2 separate regions of the Homo sapiens genome follow, and region 1 is linked to region 2. A link means that fine-mapping ties the variant in region 2 to the expression of a gene that starts in the linked region. Tissue or cell type: skeletal muscle. Region 2 holds a variant in brackets; the other region holds the start of a gene. All regions are shown on one strand. Distances are between the middles of the regions.

Region 1 (5,000 bases), 170 kb before region 2:
TCTGGGCTCTGCTGCTGCCTTGATGGGAGACCCCCGTATGTGGTGCAACCCATCTAAGCAGGAGTGGTAATTATGTTCACTTCGTAGGGCGCTTCTGAGAATTCACTGAGACCATGAAACAACTGGACCTGACACAAAGTGAGCCCTCCTGATGCAGTGGCTGAATTTTGATGTTATTAAAATCTTTTGAAACTCCAGTGAGGAGAGGGGTGGGGTGGGCTCTGCAACATGTTAACCCACAGAAATATGAATTCCTCACATGACTCAGGGAGGGAGGTCCGTGCTACAGGAAGATTGGTCATGCATATGGATTCACCTGGAGAGGGCAGATCGGGAAGCGTCATGCAGTTCTGTTCGATGCCTCACCTTGGCCACCTGAGGCCGCAGCTCCAACCTCTGCTCCCTACCAGGACACTGAGCTGGAAGACTGGGGTCCTAGTCCCACCTCTGCCACTCTTTGCTGTGCAACTTTAGGCAAATCGCTCACCCCCTGAGGTTCATTTCCTCCCCTGTAAAGGATGGAATGGAACTCAAGGATGCAGCATCACTCCTTCTAAATTCGGTGAGTGTGAATCTGGAGAGAATGGAAAGAGGAAGGGAAATGGCCCTGTGGGCTGCCATCCACATCCAGCCGATTCCCAGTCTCAACTACTCCCTCTCTCATTTATTCCTCCCAGTGAGGCAGCTTTCAAGCAGTCAAGAACCAAGACTCTGGAGCCAGACTGCCCGCCAGCTATGTGGCTTGGGCCAGTTGCTGAACCTCTGGCTTTAATGCGCTCCCCCGTGAAGTAGGATGATAGTATTAGGCCTCATTGGGGTTGTCTTGAGGATTACCGTGCACGGAAGAATATTATCTACATGCCTCTGAGATAGGTCTGGGATTCCTGGTTTACAGATGAGGAAGCAGAGAGGATCAGATGAACATCAGACAGGAAGAGAGAAATCTGTGTGGGAAAGGCGGGTGTGGGAGCCGAGGATGGATGTGCGCTTCTCCCCTCCACCTCCCTGTCGCACACTGCACCACGCTGGCCTCCTCTGGGCCAGTCAAATACACCAGGCTGCCTTCCGCCTCAGAGCCTTGACGCCAGCTCCTCCCCTGCTTCTTGCGTCATCCGAGTCTCAGCCACACGTGCCTCACAGAGGGCCTTCCCGACCACCCCGTCTGATGGCAGAAGCCTCCTTCCCGCCTCTCTTGGGGTCCCTGCCTCCCCTCTTCCTGCTCTCTTTTCATCCTGATCCTTATCACCACGTGCAATCCTATATCTGCACACTTACTTCCTGGCTTCCCCTTAGACTGTAAACATCATGAGGGCAGATACTTGCCCGGCACATGGAAGGTCCTCGGGAGAGGAAGAGGCACCATAGCTAGACCAGAAATTCTCCCTAGCCACGTGCAGCCCCCTTTGGGACAGGACTGGCACAAACGAGGACTGCTCTGCCATCCACCGTGCAGCTACTGGCGTGGTGCGCCCTCCTGGAACCCCGTGGTATAGCTGTTATGATCCCTTTCACAGTAGCATAATCAAGACTCCCAGGAGAGACGCGGCTTGCCAAGGTCTCATCGCCCTTCAGTGGCAGAGACAGCCTTGGAGTCGGCCGGCCTCACTCCAGGGCCAGAGCCCCGAGAGCTCCGCGGCTCGCGTGTCTCAGTGCCGAAGGCAGAAAAGCCGCCTTGGAAAGTAGTGTCATCGTAGGCTCCGCGCGGCGCGTGCATTTTAGCAACAGACTTCCAGGTTTCCAGCGCGGGCCAGGAAGGGGCCGGCGCCCCGCGCCCCGCCGGGTGTGTGACTTTGCCGCGAGGGCGCAGCCGAGCGGCCGCGCCTGATGCTGCTGTTGCCATGGCGACCAGCGCCTCGGCGATTGGTCCGGCGCGGCCGCACTACGTTGCTCCTTGGGCGCGGGGGGTGGGGGAGGCTCCGGCGCGCCCGCCCCTTCTCCGGATGCTGCGAGAGCAAACCCGGGGCAGCCTTCTCTCGACCCTCCCCTCCTCATCCCCGCGCCCCGCACCCCGGATGGACGGGAGGGAAAAACCCCAAGGTGGGCCCAGGTAGCAGCGAGGTGGACGCCCCCGCCCAGCCTGGCGACCACGGTTACTCGACGTCCTCGCTCGCTCCTGGGCACGGTGTGAGCGCGCGCTACGTGCCAGGGCCCTCCACAGCCCGCTGCTGGCGCCGCCCCCCGCTCCCGCCCCAGCCTCCCTGGAGGAGCCCGCCACCCCCGGGAATGTGACTCGCCCCGCGATTTAATTTTATTCCCCTCCACTTCTTGCCTGAGCCGCCTGCTCCTCTTGGAAACACGTTGAGCCTCCCCGCTGGAGAGGGAGCCAGAACAGGGAAGAACGGATTCACACAGGATGGCTTGCAGAAGACGCTATTTGTGAGTATATGTGGCAGGTTTCTGCCTGAAGCCAGAGGCCAGAGGGGCCCGGCTGAGCTGGGAGCTGGAGTGAGGGGCATCGTTGGGGGAGGGGCAGGTGGATGTGCAGGTGACTTGCAGAGGGAGCTGGCCACCCAGCAGGGATGCCGGCGCTCGGCCCCTGCAGCGGAGGTGTTTGTTGGTGATGACGATGAGAAAAAGGCTATTAGTCAGCAGGTCTTCAGCAGGCTGTGAAATTCCCAACTGTGAGAGCAGGTATCCCCCCTCCCAGATCCACATTCAGGGTGCCCAGACCGGCTCCTACTGTTTTGGCTTTGGTTTAGCCCATAGCCTGTTTAGGAAGAGAATCTCTGCCCAGCACGCCCATGGCCAGCCCTTCAGCCATGCCTGATAGAAGGTCGCAGGCAGGCTGAGGCAGTGGCCAGGATGCTGCGTCCTCCAAGGGCAGGTGAAGGTCCAGCCCACCGTCCCTAGCACGGAGGCATCAGTGTCCAGCTGTGTGCCCAGGTGTTCTGTGGGCTGGCAGCAGAGCGGCTGTGTGCTGGGCCTCACGCCAGCAGCAGAGGCTGTGAAAGTCTGCACGGGGCGGTGACATCACGGGCCCGGGTATTTATGGAAACCAAAGCCTGCGCTTCGGTTAGCCAGGCTTCCCAGGGGGCAGTGGGGTTCGAATGCCAGCTTCCCTCACAGCTCTCTGGGCGCTGCACTGTGCTGTTCTAGGAGGAGCAACCTTTGCCCTCCTCTGGGACCCTCGGCTGCGGGGGTTGAGGCCCAGCGTCAGGTCTCCACCTGCCTAAACTATTTGCCCAGGACCCACTCATTTGGGGCTGTGCAGTGACCTCAGACCTTAGGAGGTTAGAGAGCATGGCTGAGTCCTCTTGAGCTGGGCTCAGTCGCAAGGCTAGGAAAAGGAGGCCTGGAGCAGTATGTGGGGAGCCTTCTGGGGGCTACCCCAAGGCCTCCCTAATCGATGGAGGCCCCTTACCATGGCAGGGGCCTGTGGAACCCCTGATAGAGTGGCAGCTCCCCGTCACCTCCACTGAGGGAAAGTAAACACACCTCTGCCTCTGCTGCGTCAGCAGTGCCAGGCGGCAACCCACGGGGGATGGCGGTGGCCTCTGGTTCGGGGGATGGCGGTGGCCTCTGGTTTGGGGGATGGCAGTGGCCTCTGGTTTGGGGGATGGCAGTGGCCTCTGGTTCAGGGAATGGCAGTGGCCTCTGGTTCGGGGGATGGCGGCCTCTGGTTTGGGGGATGGCGGTGGCCTCTGGTTCGAGGGATGACGGTGGCCTCTGGTTCGCTGTGATGCTCACTTGCTTTTTTAGTGGAGAAGCTCACAGGTTGGTTTGTCGATGCGAGCAGAGCACACCAAAGTTCTCACTCCCTGTGGCAAGGCCCTCGCTGCATTTTCTGAAACAAATAGTAAATCCTTTCCCAGCGTGGAACTTCCACCCCAGTGGCTGGGAATAGGTCCTCCTGAGACAGCTGTCTCCTCCCTGCCACACCTTTGCCTGGGCCCAGGAGCCTGATGCCAGAGAAATTCTAAACTCTCAGGGCTGTTACATCGGGGAGGGGAGATGTCATGAGGATGAAATGTGACAATTCATATTCAGATTACTTGGCCCAGTGCCTGCTTGCCTCCAATGCTCAGAAATGTCATCCTCACAAAGGCCTTGTCTGGGCAGGCACTAAGAACCCCATTTTAGAGATGGGGAAACTGAGGCTCAGCACAGTTCTACTGGAACCCTGGAGTATACTAGCCTGGGGTGGGGGTTGTAGCCCAGGAGCTATACTGGAATCACTTGAGGAGCAGTTAAAGAAACAAACAAAAAAAAAAAAACAAAAAAAAACTGTGTGGGTCCCACCCCCAGACATTCTGGTTTCTAGGTTTGGGGGAGGGCTCAAGCCTCAGGATCTTTTTCATTTTCCGGATGATTTTAATGTCCAGGTGTGGTTGATGTTCCCGTGATGCAGCTATTCACTGTGGCTGCGTTGCCCAAGCCTATCCAATTGCAGTTTTGCAGGGACAATGTTCTATATGGATTCCAATACTCTTCCCTGGAGAGTCTGCTTCAATCTGTTGGGGGCCCAGCCACCTGCATTTGAACACGTGGCTCTGGTGGATTTGCTGATTCCTGGAATAAGCTCGTCTAGCCTTCCTGCCTAAGAGAGGGGCTGGCCCGAGGGGGCTTAGCGCTCACTGTCTTTCTTTTCTGTGGGTCTTTTCACTCTTCTCCAGCTCTCAGGCTCCCAGTCTGAGCATTGTGACTCCCAGGCCATCCCCGCTCTGCCACCAAACCTATTGGCACCAGAAATACCAAAGATACTTGGAGGGGGTGGCTCTGTTTGTACGCAAGGATCTTGTAACCAAGAGCAGGCCTTTCCTGAGGTTACCCTGCTGCACTTGATAAGCCTGTGTTTGCCCACCATTACTCCCCACCCAGAACCCGCGGCAGGCCCACTTCTAGGCCCAGGCTCTCCCAGCACCTGCTGCTCAGACCTTATTGTTACCCTGCCTTTCAGTGTGGAAAGGAGATGGGGTGTTGAGCATCTCTAGATGTTTAACTTTCCCAACAGTTGCACTGTAGCCACTATCAGAGCTGCCCAACTTGATTGCAAAGCGTTC
Region 2 (5,508 bases):
ACCACCATGGGCAGCCCCCTGCCCCGCCGCCCCCCACCAGCAGCAAGGCCAAACCCAGCGGCATCAGCACAATTGTGTAGACAGCCTGGGTAGGGGTCCCAGGCTCCCTGAAACACCTGCACACCACACAGGGCACGCCCGGGGGTCGCCAGCCGCACACCAAACCCGGGGCACTTCTGTTGCCATCTCTCCCCTCTGCCCCTCACGGCCCAACCGGAGCCCCAGGAGCCCACAGGGCTGGTGTTGTGTGGAACAAAGGCCCAGATTTCATTTCTTGTTGGCACCCTGGGCTCTGCTCACCTCAGTCTGAGGGATGGGTGGGCCTCAGACACCATCAGCCTTGAAACGGTGAGCCAGCCAAGTAGTGTTGAACTGCCTCCCCCACTCCAGCTCTCAGCTCCCTGTGCCCTAATGTACATGCATATGAAAACCCAACCTAGAAAACGAAGAAATGAGATACAAAAACAGACAAAACAAACCCCAAAACTTGCTGCATTATTGCTCTTTTATTGACAATGGGCAAAAAAATAAGTAGACCTGATATGGTTGATGAAAATACGTAAGTAAACTTTATATAAATATATAAATATATAAATATATATATATATATACTGTATAGGTAGTACTTGTGTGTGAAAGGCAGGCGTTTCAGTCCACATTAGCAATACCCACCTTACAAGGAGCTCCACTTACCTAATAGGAAGACAGTACCTTAGCTGGGTGTGTGAGACAATAGACCAAACCCTAAATGCTAGGAACAAATTCAGATACTTCATATTTTCATACAAAGAAGTCCCTCTAGGACTGGCTAAAATCTTTACACAATCATTACTAACTGTGCCAAGTAACATAGCATCTAACTGTTTAAAAAGTCCAGTATTGCTTTGTATAAATCCTTATTTTATTAACAGAATACTATCATAAATAGTATTATAATGCTGTTATTTCAGGTAAGCAAATAGCTAAACTGCAGTACACTCTACAGTAGCAACTCAGGACAGCTGGTTACAAGCTGGTTGTCTTAGGACATTGGTTACACGGATTCTTAGACACTTTAATGGCTGCGATAACTGTGACTCTCCATGATCCATGTTTCTTTTATGCGCATATGATTTGACGCACACTCATTCAGAGTCCTCCGAGAGGGGCACCCATACACGGCAGAAGTGTTCATCTCCAACATGAAAGTGACCAGCTCTCATCCTCGTCTCCCCAACACCATAACGTCCTCATCCCGCCTCCAACCCACACCAGGCCGAAGCCCTCAGAGAGTGTTTTCATCAGGAACCACTCTCGAACCTGAAGGTTGACTTTAGCGTTTAGCAACCCAGGGCGGTGTGTGTGTTTCCCGTTTTGTTTTCTGAGTGGTAGCAGTGATCACCGTAATTCCATGTAGCCATGTGCTAGCAGAACCCCTGTGTCCTCACCGTGGCCCGTGTGACCCCAGCCGACGAGTGCCCGGCGGAGCCCCCGCTGCCTTCCCATGGTCCAGTGAGCTGCCAGGGCATCACATGACTCTCAGCTGTGCTCTTGTCGCTTCTGTGTTGTGGTGACACCATGCGCTCCCCAGGGCCAGACCTGCACGCGGCAGGTCTGTGCCCGAGTCACCCACGGGCCATACTTTGTAGTTTCAGCCTTTCGAGCCACTGCAGCCGTCAGTGCTGTGCTCCTAAGCCATGGGACCCGAGGACTGCCCCCCGGCGCCTGCCCAGGCGGAGGCCCTTTCAGAAAGGGCGAAGCTCACGCCTGACTCTGCGGGCCGCGGGGCCGCGTTCCCAGTGGACAGCGTGGTGAGCCGTGGCCGGACGGCAGGAGGAGAGGGGAGCCCCCTCTGGCTGTGTGTCACCTTGGCTGGCTGGCTGGCCAGGGTTTTGCCGATTTCCCTCCTCACATCCCTCCCACCCTCGGTCATATCATTGAGATCACCGTACCAGCAAATCTGCAAACCAAGCACTTTGTTAATCTCCAGAGAGAGCAAATACAGCAATCTAGAGTTTAGCCTTTTTAAAAATGTGACTTTAACCCGCCCACCTGTGTCCTCCCATTGGCGTGGCATTTCTTTGGTGTCTGCTCAGAAAGAAACAGCATGGGACCGTGTGATTGGGTCCAGGCTGGGCTGTCAGGGAAGCGCCCTGGTGTCTCCGACTCATCAATTCTCGGGTCTTTTTTAAAAGCCAGGCTCCCCAAAGCACTCT[G/TTG]TCTCGCAATTTTGAGGAGGCTGTTCCGACCTGGAAGCGTTAAACTGCTGCATGTCATCTGGCGTCAGCTGTGAGGCTGCGCTCTGCGTGTTGTGCGTTTGCAAAATGTATTGGCGTGACTGTAAACACATCGTTGAAGTAAAGCGATTACATATTGAGTATGTCAGCTTTTCTCACCCTCTTCTGTGCTGGGAGGAGAGTCTAACTGTAACCTTTAGGTTGTTCCAGAAAAGATTCAGGCCGTTTGGCACAGAATTGCTCTTTCTGAAGGGTAGCAGTAATGAATAGGAACAGACAGAAAACCCCAGGAGGGGCTTTCAGGAAACTCTCCCTCTCCATCGCCATCCTGCAAGCTCCACAGCCTCGGGCTGCCAGCCTGTGGCACTGTCCTCGGTGTGTCCTGGAGCTGTGCTGGGCAGCAGGGCCTCGCGTAAGGAACTGCTGGAACCCACTGAGCCCTTCCCGGGGTTTCCCGCCGCACTCAGTGTGTTCCTTCAGGCTAGTGAGGTTTCATTCTGTTTTATTTGCAAGCTTATCAAAAGTTTGTGGAAGATACATTGTTGGGTTCCAGAGGCTGGAGTCATGCTGCCCACATCTTGTTTGGGAAAGCAAAAGCTCCCAGTGAGCTGGTGTCCCCGTGTGTCTTTCATGGGACTGTCCCCTTTAGAGATCCCACCTGTCAGAGCCACAGCTTCGGGGTCCTGTCATCACATCCCCTGGGAGGGGAGGCAGGAGGAGGCCGAGGGCCCCAGGATGTCTGCCTGGTCCCTTCTCACTGTGAGGACGCCCTTGGCACACCTTTCTCAAGTCACACAAATTACTGCAGTTACATACAGAATTGCTGACAGGAGCAGGAGACGCTGAGGGAAACAGCTGGCAATGTGACAAAAGTCTTTTCTGGGACAACAATCAAATCATGTATTTGTATTTTTTTAAGTTTACCAATGAATTGTACAACAATGTAAAAATAAAGTTCATCCTAATATGCTGTGCACATCTTGCTTAAAAATGTCTTCAGCACCCAGTGCAGTGATCTTTCCCTCACACACTGCATGCAGCAGGAGCCTCTTGTTTTTCTTAATGAGCTGAAAAGACAGCAGATGTTCACAGCTGATGCTGGGTGTTGACTCAGCGCCACGGGAAGCTCTGTGCCCGCAGGTAAGCACGCACAGTCTTACAGTTCTCCTTGTAAAATATCATCACCCTTCCTGCCTGAGAAACGAGTACATTTGTATTTTATGTAACAACAATAGTCAAGGCAGCATTGCAACACTGAGCAGGGTGAGGTGGGGGTGCTGAGCACAGGACAAGAGGGAGGAGGCCTGCCCTCCATTCAGATGCATCTGCATCGCCCTTCTGTGTGCAGTCACATCGAGACTGCACACAGCATGCATCTCCTCTTGGAAAATATCTTTTGCCTCCGAGTTGTTTTAAGCAATTAGAATCAGGTCCTGAATCCCCAGACTGTTCAGAGACTTCAAGGGACACCTCCCTCACAAGAAGCCTGGCACCCCCACTGTGTACCTTTGAGAGGAAAGGAGTGCGTTTGTTTTCATCTGCATTCTGTTTGTCAGTGGCAACAGACTCTATCAATGTAAAACCATGGTTGTGATCATGTGGGGAAATCAAATAAATCCTTTGAAACTCTCGGATTCTCACTTTTTCTGAAAAGTCCAGAAGTTGCCCTGTTGGCCAGACCCAGATCTCCAGCTGATGAGTTTCCCCATTACTTGTTGTGACTCTGGGCACTCACTTTCCTTGAAGACATTGGACTGACTGAGGACACTGATACAAAATTTAAAATAAAGGGACACATCACAACCAATAGAAGGTTTCAAAGGTATTTATAATTTCTAGCAACTTTCAACAAGTGATGGTCCTTTCATGGAGTTAGAGGGGATGAATTCTATTAAGCGTTGAGGTACACTGATTATGACTTAGGGAAAAAAATACCCAGTGGCCCAGTCCCCAGTAAAGATGGATGATGACAGGAGTTCAGAGCAGCCTGCGTTTCCATGTTGGCTCATATCATGTACAAAAGCCAAGATGGTAAAGTCATTCTCCTGGAAGGAAGGGGCCTGTGAGGATGTAATTGGCTTCTGCGATTTCTCCTTTCCTGGCCAAACATAATTCCTGAGAACACCACTTTAAACTTTCAGTGCATGGGATAAAAGGAACTGGCAGATCTAACTAGTGGAAAACCAAACAAAAAAAAGTTAATTTTGGTGACCAAAATGAACTCTGGCCCTCCCTCCGTACAGCACATTCTGATTGAAAGATGTTCTCACAGGGGCCCCCTCTTCCAGTCTCATTCATAGCCACTACTGGCTCATCTAGACTGAAACCAGGAAACCAGCCATTTCAGTGCACACACACAAGTGCCTTGCACAATGCCTGTTTCTGCAACTGGGCGTCCATCCCTTTTACAGACTATTCAGGGGCCCTTCAAGAGAAGCTGGGTACAAAAATTCCCTGAAATACCCGGTTCTGCCTCAGGGTTTGATTTTTACTACGCAGATCTACAGCCCAGGAGCTGCTGGAGGTAGGTGAGCTAGGCCAGGGCTCCGAGGCGGTGATCTTCTGGGGATTGTGTTTGTCTCCCCCTGCCCTGAGATTGTGAGCTGCATGATCCGCCTGTGTGTGTCCAGTGACAGCCCCAGGACTGGGCTTGTCGGCATGCATCTATCTGAAAATTAATGGATGGCTGGAAGAGGCAGGGGTTCAGGTCACACCACCAGCAGCAGCTGGTGTTTGAGAATACCGATCACTGACATAATTAAAAAACGTATGGAAACCGGTTTGCTCATCCCCCCCACTTCCCTTAACACTTAAGTCTGGCTGGGAGACACCTGACTCAGACCTTGAGATCATGGTTCTTCCTCCTCCCTGGCTGCATGTGACTTCTGTGCCACCGAATCCCAGGAACATGTTTAGCTTCCCTGACCCCTCGGCAGCTGTGACTGTTCGTGCCTGCCTCCTTGAAATGCTGGTTCCCGGGCACCTCTGGGCCATGTGCCCTTTCTGCTCTCTGGAGACTCCTTCAGTCTCCTGTGCAGGCCAGTCCTCCTCCACGGAGCTCGTGTGTGGCTTAGGTCAAGTCCAAGCCCTCTTCCTCCCTTTCCCCTCTCCTGAGGCACCCTCACACAAGCCCACGGTTTCAGTCCACCTTCTCCATGCCCCTGGCTTCCACATGTCATCTCCAGCCCAGACCTCTACTCTGGGCACCCATGTCCCCTTGGTGTTTCTGACAGCCCAGCCCTGCAAGCCCTCCATGACCATGTTCTTCACCGTATAGCCCCATGCAGCGGAAACC

What was found. PIP is the estimated chance that this variant, and not a neighbour inherited with it, causes the effect.
Region 1: IQSEC1 starts here. The variant in region 2 is fine-mapped to the expression of IQSEC1 in skeletal muscle (GTEx, PIP 0.98).

What each region holds. Positions count from the first base shown.
Region 1 is chr3:13,070,368-13,075,367 of GRCh38, reverse strand. It overlaps IQSEC1 (IQ motif and Sec7 domain ArfGEF 1), which reads left to right and starts at 1,939. Exons shown (of 14, transcript NM_001134382.3): 1 at 1,939-2,376. The coding sequence starts at 2,354. RefSeq lists silencers at 1,564-1,743, 1,864-2,023.
Region 2 is chr3:12,895,555-12,901,062 of GRCh38, reverse strand. IQSEC1 (IQ motif and Sec7 domain ArfGEF 1) reads left to right here. Exons shown (of 14, transcript NM_001134382.3): 14 at 1-4,020. The coding sequence ends at 80. The region is part of intron 4 of LOC105376956 (a long non-coding RNA gene); the gene reads right to left. Among named protein-coding and RNA genes, the nearest start is that of LINC02022, 13 kb to the right of the region's middle. The variant G/TTG (reference allele first, on the strand shown) is at 2,196.